Regions from separate parts of the Homo sapiens genome. Here all the other regions are linked to region 3. The links come from fine-mapping of genetic effects on gene expression. A gene starts in region 3. Each other region holds a variant in brackets. All regions are shown on one strand. Distances are between the middles of the regions.

Evidence for each region.
Region 1: its variant is fine-mapped to the expression of CDC42EP3 in whole blood (INTERVAL, PIP above 0.99).
Region 2: its variant is fine-mapped to the expression of CDC42EP3 in whole blood (TOPMed, PIP 0.99).
Region 4: its variant is fine-mapped to the expression of CDC42EP3 in whole blood (TOPMed, PIP above 0.99).
Region 5: its variant is fine-mapped to the expression of CDC42EP3 in whole blood (INTERVAL, PIP 0.99).

The regions. Positions count from the first base shown.
Region 1 is chr2:37,696,595-37,701,699 of GRCh38, reverse strand. No RefSeq gene overlaps it. Among named protein-coding and RNA genes, the nearest start is that of CDC42EP3, 28 kb to the right of the region's middle. The variant G/A (reference allele first, on the strand shown) is at 2,942.
Region 2 is chr2:37,826,526-37,831,630 of GRCh38, reverse strand. It overlaps PIRAT1 (PU.1 (SPI1) induced regulator of S100A8 and S100A9 alarmin transcription 1), which reads left to right. Exons shown (of 4, transcript NR_110012.1): 3 at 2,593-2,698; 4 at 3,753-5,105. Among named protein-coding and RNA genes, the nearest start is that of PIRAT1, 47 kb to the left of the region's middle. The variant G/A (reference allele first, on the strand shown) is at 2,277.
Region 3 is chr2:37,668,897-37,674,001 of GRCh38, reverse strand. CDC42EP3 (CDC42 effector protein 3) reads left to right here and starts at 2,360. Exons shown (of 2, transcript NM_006449.5): 1 at 2,360-2,576. RefSeq lists silencers at 1,382-1,551, 1,772-1,841, 1,852-1,911, 2,082-2,571.
Region 4 is chr2:37,765,978-37,771,082 of GRCh38, reverse strand. All of the region lies in intron 2 of LOC107985869 (a long non-coding RNA gene), which reads right to left. Among named protein-coding and RNA genes, the nearest start is that of CDC42EP3, 97 kb to the right of the region's middle. The variant G/A (reference allele first, on the strand shown) is at 3,016.
Region 5 is chr2:37,645,203-37,650,291 of GRCh38, reverse strand. CDC42EP3 (CDC42 effector protein 3) reads left to right here. Exons shown (of 2, transcript NM_006449.5): 2 at 3,470-5,089. The coding sequence starts at 3,705. The coding sequence ends at 4,469. Among named protein-coding and RNA genes, the nearest start is that of CDC42EP3, 24 kb to the left of the region's middle. The variant C/G (reference allele first, on the strand shown) is at 2,156.

The DNA of each region.
Region 1 (5,105 bases), 28 kb before region 3:
AAAAGATACTTGCACATGCATGCTTCTAGCAGCACAATTCACAATTGCAAAATCGTGGAACCAACCCAAATGCCCATCAATCAACAGTGGATAAAGAAACTGTGGTGTATATATACACATGATGGAATACTACGCAGCCATAAAAAGGAATGAATTAACAGCATTTGCAGTGACCTGGATGAAATTGGAGACTATTATTCTAAGTGAAGTAACTCAGGAATGGAAAACCAAACATCATATATTCTTACTCATATGTGGGAGCTAAGCTATGATGCCACAAGGCATAAGAATGATGCAATGGACTTTGGGAATTGGGGGGAAGAGTGGCAAGGGCGCGAGGGATAAAAGACTACAAATATGGTGTAGGGTATAACGCTTAGGCAATAGGTGCACCAAAATCTCACAAATCACTACTAAAGAACTTACTCATATAACCAAATACCACTTGTACCCCAATAACTTATGGAAATAATTAATTAATCAAATGGCACAGTATTCGCATATAACCTATGCATATCCTCCTGTATACTTTAAATCATCTCTAGATTACTTATAATACTCAATACAGTGTAAATGCTATGTAAATGTTTGTTATACTGTATTGTTTAGGGAATAATGATGAATAAAAAGCATATACTTGTTCAGTAAAATAAAATAAAATAAAATAAAATGGCTTTCTATTTTAGGGCATTTATCTGTTGTTGAACTTCTTAAGTCACATGCTCAGCTACAATACCCGTATTGGTAGCATTCAGTAAAAATAATCAGATTTCAGAGGGTTTTAGAAGTTGGATTGTATAAGGAAAAAGCATCTATTCTAGAAATTCATTTTACTCCTGCAAATGACTTCAAAATTATTTCTGAGTAACAAAGCAGTAGTTAATTTATGTGGTTCTCAGCATTTATGTGTTTTCTCGACCTCTCTATTTTTCCTTACTTTGTCTCCATTACCAGTGTAGAAGAAAATTTGAAATATTCTGGTTAATTAAATGTGAACCTTCTGGTTAACTTTCTGATTGATGTATATTTTTAGATAAAATCATATAGATGGCTATCTTGGAGCCAGTCTGGTTTCCACTCACCACACAGCTTGTAGAGTTCATGGGGACTGCTGCCTGGAGACCACATCACAGACTCCAAAGTCACTACCAATATTAACCGCCCTTGACTGGAGTCACCCAAAGACAAACTCAGACTCTGTCCTGCCTAAAGTCCTAAATTCCATGGAAGATCCTTAAGGCCAGCTGACCCTACCAAGACAAAAGCCATGTCTTCTTCACTCACCAGACCAAGGTGACTGCTTGATGATGATGTTGCTGATGCTCCCTGACTGTCTCATACACTGATTTCATGGGACTCTAAGCCTCCTGTCTCTGTCCAATCACTCTTCCCCCACCCCTGCCTCCTAGCTATCAACTGTGTCCTCTGGAACTTTCTTTCCGTGACAGCCCAACCATCCTACATCTTCAATCTCTTTGCAGACACTCCCTTCACTTCCTGACCTTAACTGAAACCTGGTTCGCCCTTAAGAACATGGCATTCCCAAATAGCCTTCCCCAGTTGAAGGTATTCCTCCATTCACTTGAATATCCTCATAGGTACCTCCAACTCAACAAGTACAAAATTGTACTTGTCATCTTCACAACATCATCCATTCTCTTCCCCCACCTCCATGACACAACGACGCAAAAGTTACCCAGTCTCCCAAAGCAGGAATCTGGCGGTCAACCTAGACTCATCTTTCTTTTTCATCTTCCATATTCTATCACCACCAAGTCTGACAATTTTTCCTGCTAAATAGTCCTCTAATCCATTCCTTCTCTGTGTTTCTATTATCACAGTCCAGTTCAAGGCCTCAATTATCTCCTGCCTAGATTATCACACTCTTTTCCTGCTTTTAATTTACTCAGGAAATCCATCCTCCACCTGGCTGCCAAAGGAATTGCTCTAACACAGAGTTGACCTTTTCTCCTTTTCTCCTCTGCCTGTGGTAATCCAGTGACTCTTCCAAGCCTGGCTGAGCCCCTTCTTGGGAAAAACAGGCCCTTCATTATCTGTCTCTACCTACCTCCCCAGTCCTAACTCTCCCAAATTGCTACTATCCACTTTATACTTTAATAATACTAAACAACTTGTCCTTCACTGCAGTAATCCTGCTAAAAATGCTCCTGTGCCTTCCTTTGGTCTGCAATGCCCTTTCCCACTCTAGCTCGTTCTTTGACTGGTTGACTCTTACACACTAAGCTTTGAGTGGTGTCATCCTACCCAGGAATCATTTCCTGAGCTATCCTGCCAAGCTCTACAATCTCCCTGAGCGCTCCCAGCATCCTACTTTTGGCTTGTATTATCCATGTGAGTATGTGTATATTTCACCCTGTGTCTATTTTCCTGGGAGCCACAGACTGAATTTTTTAAATTTTTTACATTTGCATCTGTGGCTCTAACAAAGTGACAGGAGGAACATATTAGGTACTTAATAAATATTTGATGCACCAAAATAATTTCCACTGAAAATGGATTTGTCAAGCCCCAGTAGTCTTCATGTATGCAGGCATTCATTTACTCTTACTCATTCAGCAATAGAATACCTACTAAATATTTATATCTTATTCATCTAGCATTCTTGACCTCTCTGCTGTTTAGGTATGCTGTAACTTTTTGAAATGCCTCAAATTCAGTTTCACTCAGAAGCACTCTCGCATGTGAACTACAGTGTCTGGCTTGTGGAAAATAACTGATATAGGTGATCTGAGAAAAGGCAAAACTAGGACTGCCTGTGTCCCAGTGGAATTTACAGTCTGAACTGACTATGCACATGTGCAGTGTTTGGCAATACGTAGTTTTTGAAAACCTTTCAGCAAATGTAAATTACTAAAACACAAACCAAATACCTAAATTTCTAGAGAAACTGGAGAAAAAAAGAATGGTCAGAACTGGGTCA[G/A]TTTAATCAGAAACAGCTAGATAAGGTGAGGTTTGTTTTTAATGTAAAGACTTTGTGAACATGAATCACTTAACAGGAAGGAAAATAGCATTTCAGTTTCAAGAAATGAAATAGGCAAAAACAAACAAACAAAAAAGAAGATAAAAGCTCTATTGAAAAAAACCAGCAAGCCCATTTACTAGACTGAACGACGAATCTGAAACAGCAGAACAGGTTGTCAGTATGCAAGACCTGCATAAAATACATCTATGAAGCTGAAATTAGTCTTTAGGGCCAAGTGTGATAGGGAGTCTCCAAATCGATGCTTTCCTCCCTTCTTCCCCTGGATGGGCATAGTTTTTTGAACACTTCTGAGATATTGTAGTAATTATATTTTATTGGTAAAAATAACAAAGTTCAGGCCGGGTGCGGTGGCTCACGCCTGTAATCCCAGCACTTTGGGAGGCCGACGTGGGTGGATCACGAGGTCAGGAGATCGAGACCATCCCGGCTAACACGGTGAAACCCCATCTCTACTAAAAAAATACAAAAAAAAATTAGCCGGGCGTGGTGGCGGGTGCCTGTAGTCCCACCTACTCTGGAGGCTGAGGCGGGAGAATGGCGTGAACCCGGGAGGTGGAGCTTGCAGTGAGCCGAGATCGCGCCATTGCACTCCAGCCTGGGCGACAGAGCGAGACTCCACCTCAAAAAAAAAAAAAAAAAAAAAAAAAAATCACTAGAATGCAATACAAATAGTGAAGCTTTAAGGGCAATGACAGGCAGATGGAGGAAATATTCAGCAACCAAGAAACTTGCCTCTGTTTCAGCTAATATACCATGAAATATTAGGTTAGATATGGGAGAAATGTAGAGCCTTCCAAACTGTAAGTTCTTGAAGGACAGGTTTCAGGTTTACTGTATGGGTATTTCTGCCATAATGCAACACAGACACAGCTGAAAACCCTGAGGTTTGCAAAAATTATGCACAAAGATGTAATGGGAATTATGGAGCTAGCTAAGGACACTGAGACCCAAGGAATCAAAAGTGATAAGCCCCCTGGGTTTTCTTTTTACTTCATATATGTCAGACTGAAGAAGCCAGCAATCCTAGAAACGTTGACGGGTACAGACAGAAAAGCCCCCCTAAAACGCCTGCTCCTTTTAGCCAAAGAACAAAGAAAGGGAAAGTCTAGAAACACAGAAATTGAAAATACAATACCAATTACAATTGCTCAAAAACTGGAATACTCTGGTATAAATATGACAAAATGTGTAAAGCACATGTACGCTGGAAACTACAAAATGCTAATAAAAGAAATAAAAGAAAATCTAAATAAATGGAGAGATATACTGTGTTCATAGATTGGAAGACGCAATGTAGTAAAGAGGTCAATTCTCCCCAAGTTAATAAATACGTTTAACACAATTTCTATCAAAATCTCAGCAAGTTTTTGTTTTAGATGTAGACAAGATTACTCTAAAATTATATGGAAAAGCAAAGTAACTAAAATAGCTGAAACAATTTTGAAAAAGAAGAATAAAATGGGATGAATCAGTCTTCCCAATTTCAAGGTATGTAATCACGACTGTGTGGTATTTACAGAGGAATAGACACATAGATCAATGGAAGAGAGTAGAGAGCCCAGAAATAGACTCACACAAATACACCCAACTGGTTTTTGACAAAGGTGCAAAAACAAGTCAATGAAGGAAGGCTAGCCTTTTCAACAAATGGTGCTGGAGCAATTGGACATCTAAGGACAAACAATTAATACTTGACATAAACTCATACCCTATACAAAAATTAACTCAAAATGGATCACAGACTTAAATGTCAAATATAAAACTATAAAAGTTTTGCTTAAAAAAATGGAAAATGTGTGGGATCTAGGGCTAGGAAAAGAGTTCTCAGACTTGACTCCAAATACACAATTCATTTAAAAAATGATTAATTAGACTTCACTAAAATTAAAAATGTTTGCTTTGTAAAAGACTGTTGAGAGGATGAAAAGACAAAGTATAGGAAGGGATAAAATATTTGCAAACCACATATATGACAAAAGTGCTAGAATCTAGAATATATAAAGGACTCTCAAAACCCAATGGTTAAAAAAAATTCAATTAGAAAATGGGCAAAAGACATGAAAAGCCATTGTAAAGTGTTCAATCCTATTACTTAGTGGCA
Region 2 (5,105 bases), 160 kb before region 3:
ATGTTCCTTCAACACTCACATCTTAGGTGGCCACTTTCACGGGGTGGAAAAGGATAATCTAAACCTTCCTGTTCTTGCCAAAATAACCATGTGTAGGTCTTTGTTCTGCACATCTCTGGAACACACAAATAGATTTCCAAGCAGTAGGAACCTCCTGTCCTGTTCAGTTGTTGGACAAACTCTTGTTCTGCCCATTCCACCCTAGTTTCCTGAAATCCTGGCTGTAGGGCTCCCATGACTGGAGCCTGTGAGAGCCTCCTTTGTCAGGAGAGTTTTCACAGCTAAAGCCATCAAGGCTGGCAGTGAAGGACACTGGGCTTCAAGCCCACTACAGTGATGACAGGTATTGCCTTGGCTGCCCAAGCTGAGTGGTCGCCCCTCTGCAGGTCTGTCTGACTCCATCCCAGGGAAGAAGGCGGTGGAAGGTACCCATGGGCTGCAGTTGGCTCTGCCTGGCCGTGGGGGAGGATGGCAGAGGACTGACCTCTTGCTGCCTCAAAAGGGTGGAAGTTGTTTTGCCCTTTAAACTGATAAAGAAACAAGCTGGAACAGTAAAACTAATCCTCCGAAGCAATCCAAGCATGGAAACCAGAAATGTCTACTCAAATCTTTTCTCCATTTTCTTTCTTCATAAATTCGGAACATTTGTGGCAGAAAGAGAAATCAGAAAAAAAATGGATTTAGAAAAGAGAGAGAAGTAGTTTAGAGGGTTGTATAGGGAGGCAACATGATAAAGTTGGAAGAAAAATGGACTTGGAGAGAGAACAGTCAAATCTGGGCCTGCCTCTGAGTGCCTGTGTGGCCCTCGGCAAGTTTCCCTTCAACTTGAAGACCTGGGTCTCTATGATCCCTTTCAGTTGCAAGATTAAGACCTAAGAGTTCTTGCTTATATAAACAGAATTCTTCCAAGGCCATAATTATTTCCATAATCAAGAACTATTTATTAACTAAGCACCAGTGTGTGATTTTCTCAAGATAAGAGCAAGAAGAAATGGTCCTTACAGGCTAGATAGCTGTGACATGGACCAACAACTAAGCATATCTAAAAATTCGACTAATTCATAATATGAATTCAAAATATGAATTGAATAAGCAAAAATATATATACCATGGGAGTTGAATGTTTTGACGGGGAAAATCCAGACGCTGACTTTAGGATGGTACTTTCTGTTTTGATTGATCCTGAGCCACACTGGACTCTCTGGCATGGGCATAACCCGAGCATCTGCATGGCAGAGTTCTGGCTCATTGCCATTTGCAACAGACACGAAGGGTGGCATCAAACAAAAGGAAACTTCTCCGTTGACCATCATAAATGATGAAGACCAAGGCTTCAACTCACTTACTGGAGTGGATTTCCTTTTACGGATGGCCTTGGTCACCCTGGGGAGACTAAGAATGTTTAAGTAACTTAACAAACACTCAGTAAGGAATGGGATCAGGATTCTTCTCCAGGGCTAACAGTTTTAACTGCCATTCTACATTTCCTGCCTGAGACAGCTGCCAACCTGGGCTTCTGTGACTGCCACTCCATGCTTCTCAAGCCAGGGTGCACGTTAGACTCATCTGGAGAGCTTGGTAAAGCCATCCATGTCCAGGCTCACCCACAGAGTCCTCAGTTTTCTCAGTTTGAGGAGGGGCCTGGGTACCAATACTTTTTAAAAGCTCCCTCTGGGTGATTCTAAGTACAATCAGGGTGTCAATCACTGATGTCCATAATGAAAAGTGTCAGACTCCAAAGCAAACTCAGGAGGACTGCCTTCATGGTATGGATCCCTGGCAGATTTGAACCTTAGAGGATTAGGCTAGCAGCTTGTGGAAGCGGATGCAAATCTTCCAATCCTCTAAGGGCAGATGAGCCTCTGGACTCATGAGAACGCTGGTCTTGGTAAAAATCCCCTGCATACCACAGGCCTCCCTTGGAGAAATCACCTAAAGAAACACCAGGAAGAATTCATTCTGGCCTCAAATAGTTACATGGATGTTTGTTACAAGAAGACACATTTAACCATTGAAGTTCCTACTCATTGAGTGAACCGTGTCTCCCTCCTCTCTGGTTTCCAGAAACAAGGATTTTTTTCTAAACTCCTCTTACTTCTTGCCTCATGGCTAATGCCCACGGAGGTGGGGTGAGTGACCTGCTGGTAACCAAGGGAAATGAATCTGCACAGGAAGCCCAGGCCCTCCCTCCCTCCCTTCTCATTAGAAGCCAGCTTCCCCTGGAAAACAACCACATTCTGCTCTACTTTCTCATGTCTATGTGGCCCTCCCTGAGT[G/A]GGAAGGCTTAAGTTTTGTAAGATTCATCATAAGTGTGGTGATATTTCCTAATTCCAGGGAATGGAGCTAGTCATGCCACACATCTTTGCTGTTTTCACGAACTGAGGTAATTTTTATTTTTATTTTTATTTTTTTGAGGAACAGTCTTACTCTGTCACCCAGGCTGCAGTGTAGTGGTGTGATCACAGCTCACTGCAGCCTTGACCTCCTGGGCTTAGGTGATCCTCCCACCCTAGCCTCCCATGTAGCTGGGACTAGAGGTATGTGCCACCTCACCTCCTTTTTTTCTTTTCTTTTTCTTTTTTGGAGAGACAGATTCTTCTTATGTTGCTATTTTAAACTCCTGAACTCAAGTGATCCTCCTGCCTTGGCCTCCCAAAGTGCTGGGATTACAGGTGTGAGACACTGCACCCTGCCCAAGGTAATATTTTGACCTTCCTTTACCTTATTCTTTGTCCATCTCTTAATTAGTTTATAACTTAGACGGGAAAAAAGAGGTGTCTAAATAAATAAATAAATAAATTTATTTAAATAAATATTAAATAAATCCCATCAGTTCCCCATAGAATGCCATTTTCCCCTAGCTGTCTATTCATGTAACAAAACGAACAAGAAAACACTACAAATTCTCTCCCTATTTATACTGTCCCACCATTATGTTATAACTCTCATTATAATGTTTTAGTTTTTCCTTGAAATAATAATCATCAACCCATTTGTAAACCATATGTTTCTACCCACAAGTGACAACCAGAATTTCAGGATTAATTGCAAGAGCCATAAAGAGCTTTTTGGTCATTTCCCTAAGAGCCTCCATGAATAGTAACAAGGGCGAATAGTAACCCCCGGCTTCAGCTGTCCCCACTGCTGTGGCAGGTTATGATACTTTCTTTCCTAAAGTAAAGGCCAAGACAGATGGCTTTTCAGGACTTCCAGAGTCTGTATGACATAAGAAGCTTATTCCAGTAAAGGGAACAAGACCCTTGTCATCTGACACCAATGAGATGCTCTTCCCTTGGCTGGCAGGGATCTGGAGGAGGAGGAGCAGATAACCTTCAGCCTAAATAAGCAATACCATCATTATTCTGGAATCTCTCTGAAGTATGGTTGGTTACAGTGTGGAATTCCACAGGGCACGTGCCTGTCTTGGACTCTATCCAAGGGAGTAAGTTATCACAAGGACCTCATTATAACAGGGGCTCCAGGGACAGTGTCAGTCAGCAGGCTTCAAGGTAGCTGCTAAAATTCTGGTGCTGGTCTGTTTAATCACTGCATGCTTGTTAATACAGTCAAGCCTCAGTTACAACAGAATCAACAGCCCAGTTTGTCACTCATCCATTCCTTGTTCCGTCACCGCCTGGTTGAGTTTCTGGCTTGTTTATGGGGCAACTCTGGGTGTCGGGCAAAATGAATGCCTCTTGTTTGAAATGCCTAATCCCGAGGTTTTTCACCTATGTGTTGTTTTCTCCCACCAGCACCTCTGCTCCGTGCCATGCTCTTGGCTAATTGGAGTTGTGAAAGGCATGAGGATTCTGGTCATGGACTCAGCTCTCCCATAGGGTTCTGACACCAAAGCAATGGTCACAACAGTGAAAGGAAGAATCCATCTGGCCAGGCTCAGGTGGTTCAAGGCCTTCAGAATCTGCCTTGAGACTCTCACTGGCTTTAGACTGAAAACCATCTTGGCCCCGTCCATCCGTGTAAGCAATTTAACGACAGCTTGCAAAGCACCGAGCTTTAACAGAAAGAAGAGATGAGCACAGCGCAAGAACTTGGACTCCAGAAGAGCTGCCTAACAGATTATTTTTCTGTGGCATTTCATGAGAACAAACGAAGTAGGAATTTTCCTTTTGTTTGTCTGGCCTTTGGCATCGTTTACTTTCTTTTTATTCTTCTGAAATGTACTTCGAGCCCTGGCAGCATTTCTGTCCTAAAATCTTATTGTCAGAGGTTTATTTTTCAGCTTTTCAAATCATATCTGATAGAGTGAGTGTACTGCCTGGACTCATCACTTTACTTCAGAAGAAATACAGCTCACCCTTTAAATGACAATGGTGACTGTCCACATCTTTATGTTTTCTACACTGAAGTGGCAGGCTTCATTTAAAAATAATGTTTTCCCTCATCAAAAGAGAGCTAGGGTAGAACCGTCAACTCTGCTGTTGTCTGGGTAGTGACCTAACACCCACGTTTTGGACAATCACTCACTGTCTTATATTGGGTTTTCATTGCATGTAGGATAATTCTTTGTCAATGGTAGTTTTGTCAACCGTGATCTGAGGTAATGAGGTTTTCTACTTTTGCTTGAAATTTTGAAAATATGCAAGCTTTAAACATTTGCAAAGTTGGATTCTGTTTTCTTTAGAAAGCAATCTGATTTGCTGATATTCTCTCCATCTGTCAGGGGATGCGTGATGTGGTGTAGACTTAATGTGCTGCCTTTCTGGAACATGGACAGAGTAGCAGCACAGAAAAATGAGCATTTCAGCTCTGTGATGATTTGTGAAAAAAAATCTCAGATCATTGAGCAGGCATTTTGCTGACACCTGTGAAAAGTAACCACATGAGAGAGCATGGCGTGATGGTCGGAGGCCACGTGCTGGAGCTGGACTGCTTGAGTCAAATCCCAGCTGCTCAGCTGTAGTGAACTGAATGGTGGTCCCCAAAAGATACATGTATCTCCTAATCCCTGGAACCTGTGAATGTGACCTTATTAGGCAAAAGGGTCTTTGCAGATGTAATTACATTGAGGCTCTCAGAGATGAGAACATCCTGGATTATCAGGGTGGGTCCTATATCCAATGACAAGTGTCTCCTTATAGGAGACA
Region 3 (5,105 bases):
ATAATTCACTATATGAGGGATCAGTTACTCACTGAAGATGTTCAGTACAAAGAAATAACGTGAGGCACAGGGCATGGTGGCTCATGCCTGTAATCCCAGCACTTTCGGAGGCTGAGGCAGAAGGATCACTTGAGGCCAGGAGTTTGAGACCCTGGGGGAAAAAAAAAAAAAAGGAAAGGAAGGGAAGGGGAGGGGAGGGAAGCGGAGGGGTGGGGAGGGGAGGGCAGGGGAGGGGTGGGGAGGCGAGGCCAAAGGAGCCAAGATAAATCAAACCACCAGGCCCTTGAATGAGCAGGTCCTGGATAACTGTTTAGAGTCCAGCAGTGAAGTCTCATTTAAAAACGGCAGAGGGAGAGAAAGCCTCTAAAAGGCAAGGGATAATGTAGAAAAGTAAAAATAGGTTTTAGAATAAAAATGCCGTTTCAGACAAACTGCCACTCTATATTTGCAAAAACTGTAAAAGAAGTTATTTATTTGGCCATGTAGAAATAAAGTGCTTTTAACAGCAGCTAACAATAGATCACGTGAAAAAAATTACATACAAGACATGTGTGTCGGGAATGTCTTTATGTGTTCAAAAGGAATTTTGCATGTGGTATTTTATATATATACACATATTATTTGGACTTATAAAATACCCTATGTAATGAAAACTATGCATAAATATTTATAAAAATACCTTTTTCTAAGTAGGCCAGGAACATTTAATATTTTTCAATAAATTAATATATAAAATATATACATTAGTGCCAAATGGAACATATATTTTGAAATATGAAACCCAAGTAAAATGCTCAGGAATCTGGAGTAGAATCCAGGTATCTGCCAAAGGAAACTTTGGACGAGTTGTCTTTTGAAGAAGGGAAACAATGCTGGGTCTCTTATCTTCACGGACTGTTTTTGCTTGTCAAACTTCTAACATCACTTCAGCCGAGTTTCGTATTTGACTTCCAACCTCATGGCCATTTGACCTGCCAACTACTATTTTTCTTTGAGGCTTTTAACACCCCACCCAAGTATTTTGCTTTCCAGATTGTGTGCGTTTCCTTTTCACTTCACCTTAAAGTCAGCCTGGGTTTACAACATCGGCTTAAGGCGCACCCTCTAAGGTTTCAGACAGACCCAGGGCACCGCGGTGATGACCTGAAGCTGATATCTCTCGGCAAAGCCAAGGTATCCGGGAGGTTCTCCGCGTTGTGCCAGGATTTCCATCCAACCCGAGAGTCTCAGGGCAGAGGCCAGGCCCCCAGCGTCCGACTCCCAGGGGTCCCAGCCCCCTCCCCTGGCTGACCATGCGGGCTGGGACCTCCCAGCCGGAAAACACCGCCCTTTCCTGTCGCCTACTCCTTCCCCAGGCCGACGACTCGCGGAGGAGGAAGAGACGGAGGCCGATTAAGAAAATTAGCATTCATTAACCCGGTTCACGCTCCGGCCCCGGCGGAGGGGAGGGGCGCGCCGGGCGGCGGCGCTGGCGGTGGCCGGGTGACCGGCGGGCGCAGGTGCCACCGCGGCCTGAATTTTACTCTCTCGGGCCGGCAGCTGCGCCACTTGCGCCTCGTCGCGCGTCTGGGGCAGCCGCCACCGGCTTGCCCCAGCTTTAGGCAAATCCTTTTGAAAGACCCTGAGGGAGAAGAAACGCCTCCCTCTGGGTAGGAGAACCTGTAGCGTCTGCTGTTCGTCGCGTGTCCAGTTGCTCAGCCGGGAGCTCCGGCATCTTCAGGGCGCTTATTCCACTCTCCGGGTTTTGGCTGCAGCTCTGAGGGGAGCGAGCTAGAAACTGACAGAACGCGACCCTCCCCCTCCGCGCCCACCGGAGCCCGGGCTGAGAGGGACCTGGGGAGCTGCGGCCTGGCCGGGGCGGCGCACTCAGGTGGCCTCGCTTCCCTGCGGGTCACCGCCCGCCACTCGCACAGCTAGGTCGGCCTGTTGGGATCGGGAGAGGTGGGCGCACGAGTTTTAGTGCGGGAGTCCGGGGTGCGGGCGGAGTCCTATTGTCCCCGTGCACCCGGGCGGCAGCACCTCCGGGTCCCTCTTTAAACCGAGCGTCCGGCGACCTTTCTTTGTGCTTAGGGAGTCGAAAGCGGCATCTTCTCCGAGAGAAGTCGCCTACTGGGGGGTGGCGCTGGGGAGGTAACAATGGGCGCCCATTGTCCTCCGAGGGTCCAACGGTGACCCCCCCCCGCGCGCGCGCCCGGCCACCGGTTGGCCCCGGGCCAGGGCACAGGTACCGCGGCTGGGAGGGTCGGCCCCGCTGCCCGCGCCCTCCGCCCCGCCCCAGTGAGTCCCCGCGCCGCCGGCCCCGCCCCGCGCCGCCCCGCCCTCCGCAGGTTCAGTCCTCGCGTCCGGCCGCCCCGCGCTCAGTCGCGCGCACCTTCTCTCGCGGCCGGGGGACCGCAGCGCGGGGCTAGCCCGGAGACCCGGCCACCGGCCTGGGGCGCCTTCACGCCGTCTCGGAGCGGATAATGCGGTGAGCAGGCACCACGCCGGCAGACTCGGCTGGATCTGCGCACAGCGGCAGGGATTGCGTGCGCCCGCGGGAGGCCCGGGGCAGCGGCTGGGATCCTCAGCGGCGGCCGGTGAGTCGGGGCAGCCCAGGGCTCCTTCCTCTCTACCTGTCTGTGAGTCTGTCCCGCCCGCGGCCGTGGCCGCTTCCGGCGTGCGCTGGTGTTAGGCTGGGAAACCAGCAGGGAGTCGGGATACCCAGGGCATCGCTTTCCCATCTAGTGTCCAACGGAACGAAGGGGACATAAAGCAAGCCAGGAGGGGGTCCGGCGGCACGACCAGGACTCAGAGCTCCACCATTTGTGCCCACTACTTTTCAGGGTGGGGCTGCGCGGCCACATTGCACCCTCCGAGCTATTGGCAGAGCCATTCTGGGCGCGTATAGCATTTTTCCATCTGAGAACAAGCCGCGCTTGGCTACCGCGCCCCTCGCATCATGGATTGGTACCAGGGCCGCACATGGGTGCATCGCACAGCTCTGCCGTGGCATCGCCTGCCCGGTGCCCTCCTCTTTCTTAATGGAGGACATTGTTAGTGGGGCGCCAACCTGCAGATCTGGATATTGACTTTTTTGTTTTTTGACGGTGAACAGCTGAGACGTTTACAAGGTTTTTTGTTTTTTGTTTTCTTCCCTTTCTCCTTGAAACTAAGTGGCTTGACACAGACAAGTATCAGACATGTGAGGATGAATGGATCTGGCCATTTTTTCGTTATGAATTATTATACTCTATCCCTCTCTCGACTTTGGGAGGCATGTGTTTCATCTTATAAATAGAAAGTAGCATATTTTTGGGCAGGATCTCCTTTATACTGTGCAGTCTAGGAGAGGTCAGTTTAAAAATAAATATGCACTTGAATGTTACATTACTGAGAGCCAGGCTGTGGCTGGGACAAGCTGCGTGGACAGCAGCATCAAAGCCGGGAGCGCAGCTGTGTTGAAAGGAGTAAAAGCCCCAGAGTGCAGCCTAGGCTGACAGTCAAGTAATTACATTTTGTTTAAAAAAAAAAAAAAAAAAAGTGAGCGAATTAAAATGAGGAATGTCAGGAGGGTATTGCAACATGAATCTTTCCAGCCCTGGCGTATTTGGAGGAGTGGGCTGCTGCTGTGTGCTGAGGTTGTAGGGGGGCTCTAGGGAGGGAACTGATGAATGTGTTAGGGAGACAAAGATTCCATCCCCATCTCCCAGCTCTTAATTCTCACAATATCCAAGAGTTTCTTGGGAGTACTGCCTTTTAAAAGGAACAAAAATTAGGAGAGCAGCAGATGTCTGTATTTTAATAGCAAAGCCAGTTTTAGGGACTTCCTGTTAACATCACAGGGAGAAAAAAGACTCACCAGGAACCAGCGATGATGCCCCAAAGGTATCCCTAAGACAATTTAAAAGGCTCCTGTAATGTTCTAATTTACACAAGCTCTTTCATCTTAAAACCAGGAAATGTACCTTCTCTTCTTTTCTGGACAGTTCCAGAAGTCTACTCTTTCATACCCCCTGCAATTTGTGTGAGCTCTTATTGGTAGTTAATAAGCTACACAGGTATGTGTGTGATGCATACCCTTTTCAGAATAGATTTAGACACTCAGAAATAAGTTGGAGTAGTTGTGAAATATTTAGCATTTTCATATGTGAAATAAATGATAAAGGCCCTTTCTATAGTCAAGGAATGGTTGAAATTCTTCATAAAGTCTCCCAAAGAATGCGGGTTTCCCAATGGGCCTCACCCATTTGAATAAAACAGCACCAGCCTCTGGGCTCACAGATAAGAACTTTAGAGGAGAAATTTGGAAGCATTTCTGGATCCATGGCAGTTTCTGTTTTCCAATGGCATCATCTGCTAGAGATTTACATGATGAATTCTATGATTAGAACATGGTGCTGAGGCTGTGGCAGCAGCTACAGGCTTGAAATGAGATGAGCTCCTCTTTCCCTCAATCTGAGCAGTGAAATTGTTTCACGTATCTCTATGGAACAAGTAAAAGCAGCTAGAGTAATAAGTGTTGCACACTTTTTGCTTTTTATTGCACATTTAAGTGCGGTGCAAGATGAATAAATACAAAGCCGTAACAGTGATTGCAGAAGGGCTCACATGAGTTCATTTGCCCTGTCTGCGCTCCAGCCTTTCCTTTAATGTGGTGTTTTGTTTTATGTCCAACATGCTCACAAAAGCTGTGCTTTTTTCATGTATAAAGTTCCTGGTATTCAACAGTGTTGGGGATAAAATTGCTTTCACCTGTATCACCCAAAGATTTTTTTTTTTTTTTTTTTTTAGCCAGGCCATAGATTTTTCACAAATTCTTTGACCATTAACTGTAACATTTATCCAGTGGGTGGAATATAATTCGTAACCTAAAAACCTCCAAGAAGACTGCTCTGATCGTATTATTATTATTATTATTGTTATTCAGATTCTTGCTTTCAGTCAGATTTTATCTAGGCCCAGTCTCATTTCTTACTAACCAGAATCCTGTGAACCTGTATTTCTTTTCATTGATTGAATGAGAAATCTATTTTTAAATGCAGTATGTTTGCCAGAGAACAAGGATAGCCATTTGAAAATACTGGATTCAGCCAGCCACAAAATCTTGTGTGCCTCACCAAGCCATA
Region 4 (5,105 bases), 97 kb before region 3:
AGACTTATTCACTTTCACGAGAATAGCATGGGAAAAGCCCGCCCCCATGATTCAATTACTTGCTACCAGGTCAATTCAAGATGATATTTGGGTGGGGACACAGCCAAACCATATCACATGGCATCAGCAGATGGCTAGACTTCCTGAGCAGAGCCAGGGACTTGCCTGGAAGGTCCAGACCCCTCTGAGTTCCAGCTTCCTTGTGGAGTTGAAAGACACTCCAGTGTGTGTTACACTTGGTATCCTACTCAAGAAATAGTGAAAAAAGGACATTTACACCACTGGGAATAAAACTTGGGTGTAAACATGGTTCACACTTTACAGCTGATGGGTCAATTATCTGATTAATATGATTGATCATTTATCATAATGTAACACATTATGTCACATACCTTTTTTTTTTTTTTTTTTTTTGAGATGAAGTCTCGCTCTTGTCACCCAGGCTGGAGTGCAATGGCATGATCTTGGCTCACTGCAACCTCCACCTCCCGGGTTCAAGTGATTCTCCTGCCTTAGCCTCCCGAGTAGCTGGGATTACAGGCCTCTGCCACGACGCCCGGCTTGTTTTTGTATTTTTAGTAGAGATGGGGTTTCTCCATGTTGGCCAGGAGGGTTTCAAACTCCTGACCTCAGGTGATCTGCCCATCTCGGCCTCCCAAAGTGCTGGGATTACAGATGTGAGCCACCGCACCTGGCCTCACATACCTTTCTTAAGCAGAGTTTTTAATGTTTATAAATCTTACCTCCTTAAGAACAATTAAGTTTCCTGAGAACAAAATCGGTCACTACAGTGGTAGAAAGGATATGGGTTTTGGAGTCAGACAGAGCTAGATTTGAAGCTCGGTTTTATCATTTCATGGCCAGGTGCTGCCATGATTATTTTTTATGTGTCTACTTGCCTGGGTCACATGGTGCCCAAATATTTTGTCAAACATTATACTGGATGTTTATGTGAGGATATTTTTGGATGATATTTAACATTTGAATCAGTAGACTGAGGAAAGCAGATTGCCCACCATATGTAGGTGGACCCCATCCAATCAGATGAAGGTCCAAATAGAGCAAAAAGGCTGACCCTCCTCTAAACATGATAGAAACTATTCTGCCTGATGACCTTTGAACTAGAAGGAAAAATTAGTTGTTTGCTGCCTTTGGACTTGAAGTGTACCTGTACCTCAAGCCTGCCCGCCTTCATACTGTAACTACACCATTGGCTCTCCTGGGTCTCCAGCTTGTCAACTCACCCTACAAATCTTGGGCTTTGCCAGCCTCCATAATTGTGTGAGCCAATTCCTTCTAATCTCTCTCTCTCCCAGTAGTTCCTTTTCTCTGGAGAACACTGACTAATATAGGCACTTCTGTATTAAGAGCATTCTGAACAGCATTATGTTGCTAGGGCCCTGCAATGGGAGGCACCTTCTCACTTTCATCACCTGGAACCTGCTCATCCGCATGACACAGAGGAGGTATATGTGACATTTGTTCACCTGCTGACCCCTTTGTCACAGTGTCCCCTTTTCCGTGGGTACTTCTGTCCACATCCTCTCCTAGAGTGTTTGCCTCAGAAGTGCTTGAGAGGATTAGCATCCAGCAAAAAGTAGGCTCTGCAATTAAGGCTCAAATTAAGAAAAACAAATGAGTTTACACTGGCCTTGGGTATTTCCAGTAGCTGGAAAATCCCACTGTTGGAAACCTACTGAAGTCATCTCAATACAGTATTTTATAGATCCTGCAGCAGCAGGAGATGAATTAACCCGAGAAGACCATAGTGGCGGGGCAGAAAGAAAGCCTGTCAATGACCAGATCTTTTAAAAACAAAATGGCTGTTTCTGTTTTGGTGTATGTGTGGTTGTCTTTATTTTGGATGCTAAGGCGCGTTTCTTTCCCCCCCCACCCCGCCGAGAGTTTCAAGAAAAGAGAGCCCCATCTTCAATTCACTATCCAGGCAAACAACAGTGAGCATGGCTCCTCTTCCAAGATCCCACTCCAAAAAGTGACACCAGGTTTTTGACACAGACAGCCTGTGGGCACACTGTAAAGAAGTGGACTTTGTTTTGACAGGGGCCTGTGGAAGCGGACTTTTAGTGCTCAATCCCTTAAACACATAGTGTTATGAATATGGCTTTGACGATTGTTAGCAAAAGTGGATTTGTCACACAGCCATGAAACCAGCAGCTGTGTCTTTGCCACAGAGTTTGACCCCATCCTGCATATAGACAGGCATCGTGTGTAATTACTCAGCATTTGCCACACAACACAATAAACTCGGGGTCTGCCCACTGGGGACATTTATGTGTCACAGTGGACTGGATTAGGACCGAAAAAGAATAGTTGTGGTGTACGCTCCATCCCAACTGCTCATTCCCTCTCCTTGACCTACCCTTTGTGGGAAGCCAGGAATGCTAAATATTTCTTGTAGCTCTGCCCAGTCCTCTACTTTATTTACACTCCCCCCAACTCCCCAGCCTTAGCCCTGTCTCCTCCTGTGGCAAGCTCAGGCTTTCTTCCCTGAGCTGTTGAACAACTACATTTTTTGTCTGAGATGATACATCAAAGGTATTTCAAATAAAGAAAGACAAAAACATAAAATGATGTCTGCTGGACAGCCAGCCGTGCTCTGGCAAGGATAATATGCAATCTTACTTAATGGACTTCCTGATATTGACAAACTGTACCAAAGTTTCTAGGCCAGAGATAAAACAACTTTTTTCAAAAAGTGAAATAAGATAGAGGCAGTTGAAGGAACAGGAGGTGGAAGATTGATGGGGAACATTTTTAAAGAACCCACGGGCCACTCTGTATGTTTGTTTCCTGAAGGGCAAAATTAAGCCCTTAGAGCAGATCTTTCATTTTTTGGTTTCTTTTCTAATTCTAGAATCTCCTCTAACCACAATGGGCAAGACAAGTGGGAATGTGACTTCCCCTAGAGTTATTGCTACACATTTGTGAGGACATTTTCTTCAACAAGTTTGTTTTTCCCCAAAATACATTTCCAGGCAGTATAACCCTAGAGGT[G/A]GAGCCTCAGGGAAGCTACACATGCTTCAAGTGTGCAGTAATTGCAAATTGCTAAACAGAAAAATACAGGTATGGCCATGTGTCCAAGTCTTTGTGGGGCATGCTCCACTCATGCCTGTTGACCTGGCATGATTATTAATAGTTCTCTCTTTCAAAAATGTCCAGTTTGGATAATAAATTCTATGAACACCCTGACTTTCACCAAATGTACCATTTCTGAGGTCCATTTCAAACATGGTGTACAAATAACTGGTTCTACAGCCGGTCTGGTGGTCAGCCTGGCCCTGCTGAGGGGAGGGATGACATCTGAATGCACAGCCAGGTGGCACGGTGGTCTCAGAGGCTACAGTGCTGCTAGCCCCTTGGGGTAGGTCCTGAGCTTGGCACCCCGCTGCTGACTGCATGTTGCAAATGAGATTTTTGTTTTAAAGCCCTAGACTTGAAAAATCAGACACTTGGCTTTTGAACAGAAGGCAAAGCAGATATCTGGGTCTCTTCTTCCCCACCTCAAGTCCTCATTGTCATGGAGACTCCTTAACATCTGTGAGTGGATATGACCCCACCAGCTGAGGCAGGCTTCTCTTAGCCCCATTTTCCCTCCATGATGGGTGGAACATCCTTAGGTAGAAAGAAAAACACCCAACATACTTTTATTAGCAAGTGTCAAAAATGTATCAGAGAGTTTTCTCTGATGTCCATGCTTATCCAATCAAGCTATTTGCAATTCCATGTGAGTGTGGGGTTGGAGGTAGGAGGTAGATTTTGGAGACTGGGGAAGAGGAGCAGAGAAGGGGTTGATTTGTGGTGTATCCTCAAGGCATGCACTAAATATTTGACCAATGAGTATGTGAATAATTGCATCTGTGGAGGAGATTTTTGTCCAGTCAATAAATTTTAGCATATTAGAGTTTTGCTTATCTTTAACAAAAATTCATAGTAACATATGCACTCATTTCCAGACATTTTTTCCTAAAAATACTACATTTGGGTGTGTTTCATTTTACTCCTTAGGCAAAGCTGATTTATAATTCTGACAGTGCACCTACAAAATGAATATGAAAAATGCCCTGTTTGATTTGTGTTTTTTATTTTAACTGGGATTAATTTTAAATGAGTTGAGAAGAGACCTGTGATGTTGCAAAATGCCTCTTTAACTTCCAAGTTAACCATGATATTGATGGACACAAGATAGATGCAAGGTCTATAATTAAAACTTGTCTGCCAAGTCCCACTCTGTTGAATTTGGGGCGATGTTGCATGGAAGCGATGGTTTTGGTTAAACTCTAGGTCTAAAAGAAAAATAAAATAATAACTTAATTGTCAAACCTATCCACATCTATTTGCATATGCCATATGATTTCTAAATAGGGTAAGACACAGGAGCATTGAGGAAATAAAAAACCTGTTGGTTTTTAATGCGGGTGTATCTTTCTTCCCTGTTTTGTGCCTGGGCTAATGGGCCGATGGTTAAACAGTGGAATATTTAGAATTGGAGAACTTATCAATGGACTTAAAAAATATCTCTGAATCTTGTAATCTACTTTGAAGAGATCCTCTGAACAGAGGGCATGAGCTAATTCAAACAAGGAATGACCTCAATGAGAAGAACTGAAATAAAACTCAAATAGTGAATATACACACTCACATGCTGGTGAGCTAAACAAACTGAAACTCAAGTTTTAGGCAGTTTACAATCAGAGTATATTTGTTTGATAAACAGTGTTTGGACAGAAGCTTTTCATATCTTTTTTGCTAGATACTTCATCATCTATTATCTCCTCTTTTCAAAGAATGCCTCCATGCCATTGCTGTGGAATTCAAGACACAGCTCTGTTTACAGAGTGAGCTGGTGCTGACGGCCTGCCTCCCGTCAACTCCTCCCCTTCCTTTCACTAATTAACATTCTTGACATTTGACTTGACAGTCGTATTTTAGAGGGTTCAGACACAATTCTTGTAAACAAAAATAATATTCTTGCTGTGAATTCTTACTCTTTTAGAAGAAAGAAACTGGTGCTGGTGCTGTTTCCAAACTAAAACAAATGCAGTTGATTTTGTCAGTTACGAGTTTTCTAAGATTTTTGTTGTTTT
Region 5 (5,089 bases), 24 kb after region 3:
CTTAGCCCAGAATGTTCAGAAAGGAGAGAGAAGGAAGTGGTCAGTTCGAGAAATTATGGGCATTGGATTATCAGCGTTGGATTGACTCTCCTGGGATCAATCATGGTTGCCCCTGAGCTGGGGAGGAAGAGAACAGATGCAATAGAAGGACTAGATCAGAGCTGCCAGATACTTTCCCAGCAGCACAAACGTCAACTTACCTAGAGTTGTAAAACTGACATTTTGCCCAAAATTCTTAACTTTCAGGGTATTTGGGAGCTGTTAGGATTGGCAATTCAGATTCAATTCAAATTATTTTTTTCTATAGTCCTAGAAGCCTATGCCCCATCATGCAGTAAATATGATGTAAATATTTGTAGAAAGAAAGCAAAATGCCTCTGAAGGTATCTTCTCCAGTATCTCCTACTCACCAGAATCTCACTACAGCTTAGGTAGCCTCCCCACCAACCCTTTTCTTGCCTTTTTCTTTGCTGCTTCCCTCCAACCTTTGCCTCCATGCCACCGACATGAAGCCCCACTTCAAGCAGGATGAGTGAGCCTCTGGTTGGAGGCCCCTGGTGCTGGTGCCTGTGGCTGGGCAAGGACTGACCAAAGGCTGGGGCTTGACGAGCATCTTGCTCCCTGGTGGGTGCCCAGCCCCCACCAGCCTACCGACTGGGCCCTCCCTCCCCTGCACCCTCAGCAGCACACACTTTCTCCCCCTTTGCTCTTCCTCCTCACTGTCCCAAATCCTTGTTTAATTCAAGGGTGTATGTGAATGATCCAGTCAGAGTGGCAGGGAACTGCTCTCTGGCTACATTTTCATGGGATTTTTTTTTTTTTTTTTTTTTTTTTTTTTTTTTTTTTGAGACAAGGCCTTGCTAGGCTGTAGTGCAGTGGTACAATCATAGCTCTCCGCAGCCTTGAATTCCTGGGCTCAACCAGTCCTCCCACCTCAGCCTCCCAAGTAGCTAAGACTGCAGGTGTGTGCTACCATTCTCAGCTAATTTTTTAAGAAAGTTTTTGTAGAGATGAGGTCCCATTATGTTGCCCAGGCTGGTTTCAAACTCCTGGACTCAGTCAGTCCTCCTGCTTCAGCCTCCTGAGTAGCTGGGACTACCGGCGGGTGCCCCCATGCCCAGCTAATTTTTTTTTCATAGAGACAGGGTCTTGCTATGTTGCCCAGGCTGACCTCAAACTCCAGGCCTTAAGTGATCGATTTTTTTTTTTTTTTTTAAATAATTGGAACCCCCTGCCCTGGGACCTGGCCTTGCATAACCCTGCCTCCATCAGCTGACCCCAGGCAGCCCTGGCATGCCCTTGAGTTGTGGTGGACACGCTGTATCTTTCCATGGCAGCTGCCTTCCTGGCCGTGTGTGCTGAGGACACCACTCCTGTGGGCAGCTGTTCCTCAGGCCACCCAGCTGCTCCTGCAGGCAGTCAGCCACACTGTGCCCAAAGGGCAGGGAGGCCACCTCTGAACAGCAGGGGGCCCGAGGCCAGGACTAGGCATTGTACACTCATACAGGAAGGAAGTTCTGATGTTTTAACAGGAAGAACATGGGCTTCAACTTTTGTTACCACAACAAGACCCAAATTAGAGCTAAAACTATGAGAACGAGTGTCAGGACCCACGATCATGTCATTGCTGGCAGCCCCATGGTCAGCCCACTCTGCATGAATGCAAACCTCCTCGTACTTTCTCTGCCTCCTCCCCATACCCAAAGCCCGAGTGGGGCTGGCTCTCTCTAGTGCATTGTTCTCAGCCTTCTCCGGCCTGGGTTGCTGGCCAGCATGCTGACACGCTGAGCTAGCTGCTTCCCAAATTGAGTTAGCTGTTACTGAGCCAGTGGGTGGTGGAGCACAGTTCTTGTCACCTGCCACTGGTAAATGAATTTAAAACTCTTGCTGAAAGGAAAGAAATATGGGGCAGATGCAGACAGCCTCCAGCTGCTACAAGCAAATGTGGCTCCCTTCAAAACACCAACTAACCCACCCAGCCCTTGGAGTATTTATTTGCAGGCTCTGCAGCCAGTGGGAGGAGCGCCTGAGGGAAGAGGTCATGGCAGAGCCATTTGGGAAGTTCCTGCAGTGGGAAAGGGTTTAGCTTCTCTGTGTCAGCATCAGAGGTGGAGGATTATTTTCAAGAGATAAGAGCATCTCATTGGCAAAAGAG[C/G]ACATTACAACCCCAATGCCTTGTAGCTCATCCCTCCTAATCTTATCATATAGTATGTGCAGGGAGGATGTGTTGCTTTCTACACTGGTAACAAACGACCACAAACTTGAGGGCTTACAACATTTACCATTTCACAGGTTCTGTGGGTCAGGAATCTGGGCAGGGCTGAGTTCCAGCATCTCCCTGAGTTATGATTCAGTGTGGGTCAGGGTGGTGGTCTCATCAGAGGCTCAACTGGGGAAAAGATCTACTTCCAAGCTCCCCAACATTGTTGGCAGATTTCATTTCCATAGGCCCTTGCACAGTGTAACTGCTCACCTCTCCACAGCCAGCAAAGGGAGTCAGGGAGTCTTCTCCCTTGTCAGCTCAGATGAAATCTCCTATAATGTAACCTAATCAGGGACCTATTGCCTTTGCCACATTCCCTTGTTTAGAAGCCAGTCACAGGTTCTACTCACAAAGGCATTAACACCAGGAGGCAGATCATGGGGGCTCCCTTCGAATTCTGCCTACTGCATGGAGGATATAGCCTTATCAGTAATGTTTCAGAAGTGTTCCCAAGTGAAGGCCCAGCCTGTAATAGAGATTCACAATGTTTTCTCTTTGAAGTGAAGCAGTTTTGTTCATTTCCTCCCATCTCAGAATGACTTCAAATCCTGACATCCTCGACAGCCCAATACTTTGCCACAACCTGATTACAACTCTAGCTCTCTTATTTACTGGCTATATGTTATTGAGAAAAGGTAACTTTCTAGGGGAAGGGCTTATCCTGAATCTCCGTTTTCTTATCTGTAAGAATGTATTCCACTAACATTTTTAGGACAGTAGCATATAATAGTTATTGTCACTTATTAAATAATTCCAGCACCTTTCCTTTAGGACTGTTCATTTTATTGCATTAACTTATGTACATATGGAACTCAACAATGAAATATTAGTGTTGCTAGTATGCACATCAAAGCAAAAGGAAAATGTATTTTAAAACAAATCCAGTTGTATTTAAGGAGCTGAAATCACTGATCCTATGCTTACAGCAATTCTTAGAGGAAAATGACTAAAACCATAGACATGTCCAGAAGATGTGCCCATGGCTATGTCTAAAAAGTACTGGTGTCATAGATATGGGGTTTTTAGGTCTTTCTCTTTCCTGTTTTCTCTAAGATGAAAATTTTTATCCACTTACTGGAGGGAAACAATAAGTTCAGCATTAGTTGAAACTGGCCCTGCCATTATTTACAGGCTCTTGTGAAAAGGGAGGCCCTAGGGCACCCAAAAGGGTCTTTAGCTTATAACCTGCTTTGGTTTCTTCTGCAGGTTTGTCCTGGTTGTGGTCAAGACTGGATGATGTAACTGGCTCTCTAGGAAGCCTCACTTGGCCGTAACCTCAGGAAGGTTCTCTTTGACCCCATCTCATTTCGAAGCCACTTCTGAAGCCACTTGAGAAAAATGATGTGACAGTTCCTATCAAAAAGGATTCAGAAACATATACCATCTGTGAAGAAAGTGGCCCTTTCTCCCGCTTGCAAAATAGACATTCTCAAATTCCAAAATGCCAGCCAAGACCCCAATTTACCTGAAAGCAGCCAATAACAAGAAAGGAAAGAAATTTAAACTGAGGGACATTCTGTCTCCTGATATGATCAGTCCCCCGCTTGGAGACTTTCGCCACACCATCCACATTGGCAAAGAGGGCCAGCACGATGTCTTTGGAGATATTTCCTTTCTTCAAGGGAACTACGAGCTTTTACCTGGAAACCAGGAGAAAGCACACCTGGGCCAGTTCCCTGGGCATAATGAGTTCTTCCGGGCCAACAGCACCTCGGACTCTGTGTTCACAGAAACGCCCTCCCCGGTGCTCAAAAATGCCATCTCCCTCCCGACCATTGGAGGATCCCAAGCTCTCATGTTGCCCTTATTGTCACCAGTGACATTTAATTCCAAACAGGAGTCCTTCGGGCCAGCAAAGCTGCCCAGGCTTAGCTGCGAGCCCGTCATGGAGGAAAAAGCTCAGGAGAAAAGCAGTCTGTTGGAGAATGGGACAGTCCACCAGGGAGACACCTCGTGGGGCTCCAGCGGTTCTGCATCTCAGTCCAGCCAAGGCAGAGACAGCCACTCCTCCAGCCTGTCCGAACAGTACCCCGACTGGCCAGCCGAGGACATGTTTGACCATCCCACCCCATGCGAGCTCATCAAGGGAAAGACTAAGTCAGAGGAGTCCCTCTCTGACCTTACAGGTTCCCTCCTCTCCCTGCAGCTTGATCTTGGGCCCTCACTTTTGGATGAGGTGCTGAATGTAATGGATAAAAATAAGTAACAAGATGCCAACTTTTTTCCTTTGGGGTAAAAGGTACAAAAACAAACTAACCACAGTTGAAGAGAAGGGCTTCCGGAGCTGTATTTGCAGTTTTGTGTTGGGTTTTCTAAAATAATATTCTTACAAAGTATTTTTTTACCTGTTATGCCCTGTTTGCAAAAACAATTTAGAAAAAAACAACAAAGCAAAACCTATCTTGGCAAAAAAAGGAAGTGAGTCAGAGCCCATTTTCAGGAGGCATTGGTGATGTTCGGCTCACATATTGTTTGCAGACACACAAGAAATCTGGCTTGGCCAGGATTGGCACTAGCTATGAAGGGCTGAGCGAGTCACATTAAGGAACTTCACGGAACTTTATAGCACTCCGACATTTTCTGAGCAAGAGGAAGTCAAAATTTATTTAACACCTAAGCCTTTTTGTAGACTCTTTTCTATATATTGCTTAGGCTCACCATAGCGAATTCTCCAGTGTTAAAACTTTTCTGTTTTCACATTTGAACTTTATGGGTTTTGGGGATTTTCTTGTAGTTCTTATATATCCCTATATATTATATCTATATTGCAAAATTTTGACTGTCAGCTACATGTTGGTAAGACACAGGCAAAGTATTACTGTAACT